3 linked regions of the Homo sapiens genome follow. The protein of the gene in region 1 interacts with the protein of each later gene in a pairwise test. Each region holds a gene or a part of one and is shown on either strand. Other genes may lie near its edges.

Evidence for each region. The genes of interacting proteins can lie anywhere in the genome.
Region 2: the proteins of SRD5A3 (region 1) and NUDT15 interact in a two-hybrid assay, tested with the Homo sapiens proteins (one large-scale study listed by BioGRID and IntAct).
Region 3: the proteins of SRD5A3 (region 1) and ADK interact in a two-hybrid assay, tested with the Homo sapiens proteins (one large-scale study listed by BioGRID and IntAct).

What each region holds. Positions count from the first base shown.
Region 1 is NC_000004.12:55,370,242-55,373,600, reverse strand, and holds the end of SRD5A3 (polyprenal reductase), read right to left. Parts: 3' UTR 501-3,359; downstream 1-500. UniProt on the Homo sapiens protein: Plays a key role in early steps of protein N-linked glycosylation by being involved in the conversion of polyprenol into dolichol. Acts as a polyprenal reductase that mediates the reduction of polyprenal into dolichal in a NADP-dependent mechanism.
Region 2 is NC_000013.11:48,044,224-48,047,721, forward strand, and holds the end of NUDT15 (nucleotide triphosphate diphosphatase NUDT15), read left to right. Parts: intron 1-1,436; coding exon 1,437-1,576; 3' UTR 1,577-2,998; downstream 2,999-3,498. UniProt on the Homo sapiens protein: May catalyze the hydrolysis of nucleoside triphosphates including dGTP, dTTP, dCTP, their oxidized forms like 8-oxo-dGTP and the prodrug thiopurine derivatives 6-thio-dGTP and 6-thio-GTP.
Region 3 is NC_000010.11:74,395,721-74,399,220, reverse strand, and holds part of ADK (adenosine kinase), read right to left. Parts: intron 751-3,500; coding exon 642-750; intron 1-641. UniProt on the Homo sapiens protein: Catalyzes the phosphorylation of the purine nucleoside adenosine at the 5' position in an ATP-dependent manner. Serves as a potential regulator of concentrations of extracellular adenosine and intracellular adenine nucleotides.

The DNA of each region.
Region 1 (3,359 bases):
AGAAAGGTGCTGTGTAGGCCAGGGAGCTCTGATAAAGACTGCATATGCACCATGGGGTTTAAGCCAGAGGGCTGAACTTGAGCAAGATGTGCCCTTTTGTTGTAAAACCCCTTGTGGACTGGTATCCTCAAATTGCTTCAAGCATTCAGTCTTTTTGAAGGAAGAGACCCGATATTATACTTTCTCAATTATATGCATAAAGTAGCTCTTGACGTATAGTTTCATTTGGATAATTAGGTTTTTCTTCTCCCAAAACCAATACTTGGCTTTCTAGGAGATCACTGCTATTTGAGAAAAAGATGAGGTATCATATGCATTATTTATGGATCACTGGCCTCTCCACTGTTTCTTATCTATTTATCAGGAAAATCTTAGATTAGACTAATGTATTTATGAAAAACCAGTTGAATGTTGTTTTTTTTCCCCCCAATAAGTAATGTGAAAGAGTGGGCAGAAGTTGCTTAGACAGGTTACAGGGGTAAAGAAATTCGACTTGCTCATTTACTGTTTTAAGGTCTTCTTTAATATATCAGCTCATTTTGAGTGATCTCACTTATCAATGGTTCTTGAGTTTTTAGGCACCTTATGCAAATGTTGCAGTCTCCTTAAACTAAATATCTATTAAGCTACATACAAAAATATCTGCAACGGTTTTTTTTTTTTTTGTAGGAATTCTAGCAATAACCACTCATTGAAGTAAAAATCGAATACAGGGCACAGCTTTGTAGAGACAAAATAATCCATGGTTAAGCAAATGTTAGTGTATAGGATGAGCTTCACAAAAACAAAGGCCATTTTCAGCACACTTTTAGTCAGTAGTTAATCAAGGGAAGGCTGCTAATGAGGTAGTTCAATGTCATTTCCCCGACTTAATGGTAGTAGAAAATGAAAGATTAAGGCTATTTAAGCCAACAGGAAAACCATGAATCTTTAAGCTATTTCTGGGTCCTTGTGAAGAATTTGCAAAGTCCCTGATGCTCTCCCTTTACGCACATGGAATATTTTCACCAACACAAAAAACAGTGCTGATTCTGACGCTGCAAGCACTGCACAATTCTCAATTATTTCCCATCGGTGACGCTTTCACCAAAGGCCATGCTACGTTGTTCTGAACCCCTTTCAGGACATCACTATCTCCTCTCTTATCTTTGCCTAGAAATATGATGTTTGGGCAAAGAAGGAAAAGGGATGAGTAAGAAACAGGGATGAGTGGGAGAGAGACAGCAGGAAACAGGGGTGGGAAACTGGACACTGCAGCTTTCTCACAACCCCTGACAGGGTGCGTCATGGGATGCTCGTTATTTTACTTAAGAGTACAATGAGATTCCAGAACATCAGCCAAATCTCTAGTCTAACCTGGGCATAAAATTGCATGCTAAAATAAAATACATTTTTCTCCAAATAATTTATTAAAAATTACACTTGATATTCATGTGGAAATTAAGACCAAACTGCAATGTTTTCCATTTCCAATGTACAAAAAGTTTTGTTCCTGAGAATGGCAAATTCTAAATGATAAGTAAAATAAATATGGCATTTATTTAAGTAGACTGAGCCACAGGTTAATCTTAAGTGGTGTTTGGTTGATGGGAGAGAAAATCCTCCATCAGAATTGTTGTAAGAACTTTCCAATGTGCTTGACATGCATCCGGGAGCAGTGACTTACACCTGTAATCCCAGCACTTTGGGAGGCCGAAGCAGGTGGATCACCTGAGGTCAGGAGTTTGAGACCAGCCTGGCCAACATGGTGAAACTCTATCTCTACTAAAAATACAACAATTACCTGGGCATGGTGGCATGTGCCTGTAATCCCAGCTACTTGGGAGGCTGAGGCAGAGGAGAATCGCTGGAACCCAGAAGGCGGAGGTTGCAGTGAGCCAGGATCCCACCACTGCACTCCAGTCTGGGCGACAGAGTGAGACTCCATCTCAAAAAAACAAAAAAAACAAAGGAATCTTAGTTTAACAGTTTTGGGTTACAGCTCCAGGGATGGGGGTGGGAATGATTGACTATGCATTTGATATGTGTCTTATTAATCATAAGGTTCTTTCCCCCATAGCAAAGTACATATAAATGCAAAGCTTTAGTGCTTAGCTGACTGTAATAGGACATCTTCATAAAAGGAATAAACTTAACACCTCAGCCAATAAGCCAGAGAATCTTACGCTGCACAAGTGTGCAGTTTTAATGTGTTGCTCAGGCTATAGTATTATTTTTTAAGTTTTTGGTTTTCTTTTATACCATGCATTTATTTCCCTCTGAATTAATCACAGGTATTTTCTTTAACATAAGCTATTTTAAGTATAAACTTTATTCCTGAATATCTTCAGATACTTTCTGCTAGTTCAAATAAACTCACACAGACATTAATCCAATTTGAATAACTACATATGAATGAGGCTACAGTATTATTCAATCCAGAGTGTGTCACTTCCGTTCACGAAGGCTTGCTATGCATAAATATAAAAATATTTTATCTTCTGATGCTTTCATTTTTGAAGCACTCCCTTCAAAGGATGTAAAAAAATATTAAATAAAAGAGCTTTCAAAGTGTTCTGTTAGGCTATGATTTGAGGGGGAGATGAATGGAAATGGATATTGATAGTTATTTAACTGGAGATCTTTGTGGTGATATGTGAAAGTATAAACTAACTCCAACAAACTCGTTTTTTCCTGAAACTTTTGGTGTAAAATTATATATTATTATTATTTTGAGACAGGGTCTTGCTCTGTTGCCCAGGCCAGGCTGGAGTGCAGTGGCATGACCTCGGCTCACTGTACCCTTGACCTCCTGGGCTCAAGCGATTCTCCCATCTCAGCCCACTCCCAAGTATCTGGGACTACAGGCATGTGCCACCACTCTTGGCTAATTTTCATATTTTTTCACGGAGATAGGGTTTCACCATGTTGCCCAGGCTGGTCTCGAACTCTTGGGCCCAAGCGAACTGCCCACCTTGGCCTCCCGAAGTGCTGGGATTAACAGGTGTGAGCCATTGCACCCAGCCTGTTATTATTTTGAAAGGTTATTCTGCTTTTACTGAAATGCAACAAACAGTTATTGAGCACCTGCTATATTATTATATAGTCCATTCCTACTAGGCTACCGCAGCCATTGATGATCTTCCTTTGTGTGTGTGTGTGTGTGTGTGTGTGTGTGTGTGTGTGTGTGAAGCTGTTTGTATATTTTCGGTTTTTCGGTTAGTTTGCTTGTGAAGCAGCTTGGAGAAGTCTCATCTACTTTTTATCAGTTGGTTGGTTTTAGAAAGCATCTCAGAAAGTGGACCCAGAAATCGCAGATCTGCCATTAGTATTTATTCTTTGAAGATACTTTGGAGATTCATTTTCTTGAGTGGCACTGC
Region 2 (3,498 bases), on another chromosome or scaffold:
AACTTTTTTATTTGTTCACTTTCATTTTGTTAACTCCCTGACATGAACCTTGCTAGTAGTCTCAAATAAAGCAGTATGATTTACAAGGTCCAAGATTACTAGCATCAAATCAGATTTGATCAAAAACATTTATTGCTCTATATCTGTTAGTAACAATACAGCAGGAATTATGTTCACTTTATTCCCAGTTGCAGCCTGATAACCAACTACACTGATAACCAGCTGCAGCCTAGCCAAGGTACAAGGACTTGGTGGGTCTTTGTTTTATTTCTAGGATAAAGACACAGTCTCTCTATCCCGTGCTCCTCAGGCCTTGGATCTGGGTAGCCTGCTTCAGTTTACTATTTAGTGCATCTTTCCTCCAACCATCTAATTATAGTTCGGAGGCTCATCCAGACACTTCATTTTCTAGGGGATGGGGTAAACTTCATGGATGGGTTTTTGGAGACCTGGTTAATTAAGCATCTTGCACCACATTGTTGGGTACTCAGTCTGTCTGTGTCTGTCTGTCTGTCTCTCTTTCTCGCTCTCTCTCTCTCCCTCTCCCGCCCTCCCTCTCCCCCTCCCGCCCCCACCTCATTAGTGTATGGTCACAGTTACTGATCACAGTTACTCTTCCTGTACTTATTCCAGTTTCATGGATTTTCGGCCCCTGCATTCCCAAAGTGAAAATACGTACCTATATACCTGTATTTTATGGACAGAAAGATACTTAGTGCTTACACATAGTAAAAACAGGTGATCATAAAGAAACTAGAACATGGAGTGTGTATCTTAATATAATATGTAGGTATTTGTCATAAGCATCTGTGCGTCTATGTTATTTACATTTAAATCATGAAAGAAACACCATTCTCTAGAATCTTTTTCTAGAATTTCATGTACTTTATAACTGATAGACACTGTTAAATCTTTGTTTCAATGGATTTTTAAAAATCATCTCCTTCTGTATTTGTTTAAAATATACCAAGGTACAATATTTTATTTTCCTCTGCACAGCTTTCTACTTTTTTAAGAGATGGAGGATATCTTAGAAACTTTGTAATCTACTTTATTTTATAGGTGAAGGAAGTGGTTTATTTTAATGTAGTATAACCTATAGTATATAACGTTATTTGCATTTTTTACAAAAATATTTACATAAACATTGACTAATACTAAATCTGGGTTTACCATGGCATAGCCTTTGTAAACTGGGCTTCACATTCAAATAACACAATGTTTTAAATGACCACCATTCTCTTCATAAGACCTTCATTCTACATGCAAATTATATTTGTATAGCCAAGCAAATGCAAAGCATCACTATGAGTTTATTAGTAGCAAGTTATTTTTAAATTCAATTAATTTTTTCTAAATATAGGTTAGCTTACCCAAATAAACACCCTTTGTTTTCTGTTATCTAAATAAATTGATTTAGCATCTTTCTTTTCTAGGTTGGGAGTGGGTTCCTTGGGAAGAACTACCTCCCCTGGACCAGCTTTTCTGGGGACTGCGTTGTTTAAAAGAACAAGGCTATGATCCATTTAAAGAAGATCTGAACCATCTGGTGGGATACAAAGGAAATCATCTCTAGGTGGCCGAGAAGATTTGATTTTCTTTAAAAAGACAAGAATAAGGTCTGGTTAGGGAATGAAAAATGTATACATTTCGGAACAACTCCATTTTATCTAAAAAAGTTCTTGTGATTGCCAGTTTATTTGCAGTCTCTTAATGTATCCCCCACTCTTTCAGCCAGTACTTGAGAAAATTTTTCTGAAATATGTCATTGAATTGTATTCCAGACACAGAATACATGATAAATACTGATATTATGGGTAATCTGCTTTCCATATTTACCTATGATATTTACTGTGCAGTTTGTCATTACTAGCTTGCATGGAGTAGGATGCAGTCAAATTTGCCTTAGTGTTTCTGTTCAAATAGAGACCTGAATTCAAATATTGTAGTTTAGGTTCAAACAGAGTATGGCTGTTGCAAAATTTACCAAATTTGTTGATTACCTCTTTTATTAAAGAAATGTTGGGGAGAGGGTAATATATTGTGACAATTTTTGCAACTTACAGGGAATAGGACAGGTCATTAGGGTGTATTTCCCAGGTTTCCAATTGAGAATCTAAACCAAGAGAAGTGAGACAAACCATCTAATATCTGTATCATGCTATTAATAGGCTGTGATGTTGAGTTTCTCACTTACTCTTTCTGAGGTCCAGGGTCCTTATATGAAGAGATTCATATATATGAAGAGATTCGTCTAGAGCAGTGGTTGTCAAAGTGTGGTCTGGGGGGGCCTCAAGAGCCTTTCAAGGGTATTCTAGGTCAAAGCTGTTTTTATAACACTAAGACATCATTTCACTATTTATAGCTTTTCCTTTTTTTTATTTGAGAAGGAGTCTTGCTCTGTTGCCCACATTGGAGTGCAGTGGCACGATCTCAGCTCATTGCAGCCTCCGCCACCTGGGTTCAAGCAATTCTCCTACCTCAGCTTCCCGAGTAGCTGGGATTATAGGCACCCACCACCACACCTGGCTAATTTTTGTATTTTTAGTGGAGACGGGGTTTCACCATGTTGGCCAGGCTGGTCTGGAACTCCTGAGCTCAAGTGATCTGCCCATCTCAGCCTCCCAAAGTGCTGGGATTACAGGTATGAGCCACAACGCCCAGCCATCATTTATCTTTTTCACTCATTTTTTCATGAGTATGCAGAGGAGTTTTCAAGAGGCTATCTGGTGTGATATTGTAATAGGCTGAATGCAAAAGCAGATACAAGATTCCAGCTTTCGTCTGTCATCAGACATTGAAGAGATTTGGAGAAATGTAAAGCAGCAGTACTCTTCTCACTAATTTTTGTTGTGGTTAGTTAGAAAAATGGTTATTTTTAGTGGGTTTTAATATGTGAAAAAAATAAAATTAGCTATTTGCCAAAAATGTTTTTATGTGTTTATATATACTTGGTTCTTGTTACTTGCAAATGATTAATAAAAATTTTAAGAAATTTCTCAGTTTTCATTTCTATATGATAAATATTTCTAGATAAAACCATACAAAAACAAAATCTCTTTGTGGTCCTTGGTAATTTTTAAGAGTACAAAGGGATCCAAATTTTTGCCAGATTAGGCCAAAAGCTCACATTTTTAATTTTGAGCGCACTTCTGTGAAATCCTGTGCTTCTCTTAGAGTTGATTACCTTTGAATTTTGCTCTTTCAAAAGACCCCAGTACTATCATAATACTTGCTAAGGAATCTTTTTCCAGTGAGTATCATTTTTTAAGTTCTTTCTTGTTTGCTTTTTCAAAATTATATATGTACATTGTATAATTTGTCATGTAGAAATCTCATTTTCTTTTTTTTTCTGAGACAGGGTCTCACTCTGTCAACCAGGCTGGAGTGCAGTGGTGCAATCTCGGCTCACTGCAACCTCCAGCTCCCAGGCTCAAGGGATCCTCTTGCCTCGGCCTCCTGAGTACCTGGGATTACAGGTATGGTATGCACCACCAC
Region 3 (3,500 bases), on another chromosome or scaffold:
TAACACATATTAAATAAAAACAAGGTAATCATGGGGTGATTAATTCAGAATTTTTAGTACCATCCTATTTTAGAAATAAATTCTTAACCAATTATTTTTGTGTCAGAAGACTTAATAATTCAAATTACACCCTGCCCTTGTTCCCAGATTTAAGAGATTTGTCACGATCAATGTTTCTGAAATATTAAATTAAGAGGTGTCATGGTAATTACTATGGAATAAATAGCAATTAAGTTTTTTAAGCAATTCAGCTCAAACTATTTGCAGTGAATATTTATACTACTAATATTTTTCTGCACAATGCAAGTTGCCTACAAATGTAAGATGTAAGTTTGTAGAATTATTTTAAAATATATTTGGAAACTGATTTAATATAGAATTCTGCGCTTGGTTGGCAAGCACCTATGCATAATGTATCCAAAAATAGGTAGACCTGAAGATAAATAATACAAATTATGTTACCCATAGAAAGATAATGATTTCTGTTCTATTTTCACAATAGTGAATCTAACATATGCTTTGAGAGAGATAAATAATTTGCAGGGTAAATAAAAGATAATTATTTTAAAATATATATCAGACAACAACTATAATCCATCATGTAAATATGTACTAGAGATTTGAATTAGGTAAGTACTTACTGCTATATAACAAACTCTTGCTTTTTCTACCAACATCCAGTTTTTCTCCAGATCAAGATGTTTTTCCTTTTTATAACAATTGGCAGCAGCAAGATTAGCTATGAGGGACCTAAAACAACCAAAGAATAAGCAAGTAATATTATAGTCAAACTTAGCATATGTTTCAATAGATAATTACCAATATTTTTTGCAAAGTTTAAAATTTACATTTTAATTAATTCTTCAAAACTAATGTTATTGATTTTTAAATAAATATAAATAATAATTTTGTTTTGAGAACTTTCTGAGGCATCTATGATAATTTTTGTTCTAAACAACACCTGGTATTTTGAGAAAGAAATTGGCATTTAAGTTGCCTTTTGATAGTAAAATAGGACCTACTTTTTACACCTTAATAGTTCAAAATGCAGTTAAGAAATAAGGCTAACTCATTATATAAAAAGAAATCTATGCAACTAAAAACATTTTTTAAGTAGAAAAATATCTTTATAAAAATAAATATCAACATACTATAATTGTCTATTTAATCGAAGCCTTTAAAAGCCAAATATGGAATTAATTTCGTAAAAGACACTTATAAATGTAGACCATATTCGCTAAGAGGAATTAATTTGTAAACCATTACATTCTAAGGGCTGAAATCAATTAGAATTGTTTTCTATAGTTGAAAAGTCCCCTGACTGGTCCAATTTTAGAAATGGAATATCTAAGCAGGATACTGCATTTAAAATCTTGCTGCAGGTTGGGTGCAGTAGCTCAAAGCTGAAATCCCAGCTCTTTCAGAGGCCAAGGTGGGAGGATTGCTTGATGCCAGGAGTTTGAGGTCAGCCTGGGCAACACAGCCAGATCCCATCTCTACAAAATAATTTTAAAAATTAGCTGGGGGTAGTGGTGCACACTTATAGTCCTAGGGACTCAGGAAGCTGAGGTGGGAGGATTGCTTGAGCCCAGGAGTTTGAGGCTGCAATGAGCTATGATCATGCCACTGCACTCCAGCCTAGGCAACAAGGCAAAACCACATCTCTAAAAAATAAATAAATAAATAAATAAAATCCTGCTACAAGTGTCACTTGGCTTGTTTAATTAAAAATAAATACAATAATTATTTACATTATAAATAAAAATACTTTCCTTCCTCATACTGCTCCAGAATTTAAAAAATTACTTGCCAATTTTTCTCTTTTTCTAATTAAATTGTAACAGTTATAGCTTACAAAAAAAATCTTATCATTTCAGACTTTGGTAATATGTTCGATTACACTGTTAAAAAAAAAAACCTCAATTCTCTTCCAAAACGTATTTCCACTCATCCATCTGCCAATTTACTACTAAAGGATACATCTGTTTATGTTCAAGTAAATGAAGGAAAGAAAGAGTAATATGCATCAACATATTCATATACAAAATAACTATATTACAAACTTAAGAAAATTTAGACCTAATTTATAAAAATATTTTAGTAATTATGACTTTAGGAAAATTTTGACAAAATGGCTACCAAATAAAAGCAAACATTTCTGGTACCAGATACTAAACTCTATTCTGATAATAAAACTACTTTTTGATGGGAAACTACAGTTTCTCCAAAAGAAAAATAAAAGTATTCTTTTTTTTTTTTTTCCAGATGAAGTTTCGTTCTTGTTGCCCAGGCTAGAGAAGAGCAATGGCTCCGTCTTGGCTCACTGCAACCTCCGCCTCCGGGTTCAAGCAATTTCCTTGCCTCAGTCTCCCAAGTAGCTGGGATTACAAGTGCCCGCCATGATGCTCGGCTAATTTTTTTGTATTTTTAGTAGAGGTGGAGTTTCACCATGTTGGCCAGGCTGGTCTCAAACTCCTGGCCTCAAATGATCCACCCGCCTCGGCCTCCCAAAGTGCTGGGATTACAGGCATGAGCTGCCATGCCCGACCAGAAAAATATGAGTATTCTTATTATCCCAACGTATTTGATTCTGACTTTGAAGAGGAAGAACCTGGATCAAGAAAGATACTGCATTACCCAAACACTTCAATTTCTGAAATTTTTTGTTTTGTTTTTTGTTTTTTAGACAGGGGCTCACTCTTTTGCCCAGACTGAAGTGCAGTGGGCAGCACGACCCCAGTCCACTGCAGCCTCAACCTCCTGGGCTCAAGCAATCCTTCCACCTCAGCCTCCCAAGCAGCGGGGACCACAGGTACATGCCACCATCCCCAGCTAATTTTTGTATTTTTTGTAGAGATGGAGTTTCGCCATGTTGGCCAGGCTGGCCTTAAACTCCTGAGCTCGAGTGATCAGCCTACTTCGGTCTCCTAAAGTGTTAGGATTACAAGGTGTGACCACCACACCCGGCCAATTTCTGAGTTTTTGATAGTGGCAGCAAAGGTTACTGGACCTATCCAAAACAATTGATCCAACTGTATTAGCTTCCAGAATTTAGATAATGATTTAGATACTGAAGATTTCTCCCCAATTTTTGAGTCCCATATCATCTCAACAATATCACTATAACCATAAAATTAGTATAAAAGTTAAGTTTTTGACATCCAGAAGATCTAATATTATCATAACTGTTCTCTCTCTCTCTTTGGTTTTGAGACAGAATCTTGCTCTGTTGCCCAGGCTGGAGCGCAATAGCACAATCTCGGCTCACTGCAACCTCCACCTCCTAGGTTCAAGCAATTCTCCTACTTTCGTCTCCCGAGTAGCTGGGATTACAGGTGCACACCTGGCTAATTTTTACATTTTTAGTAGAGACGGAGTTTCACCATGTTGGCCAGGCTGGTCTCGAACTCCTGACCTCAGGTGATCCACCTGACTCGGCCTCCCAAAGTGCTGGGATTACAGGCGTGAGCCACTGCACCCAACCATAACTGTTCTTTAGG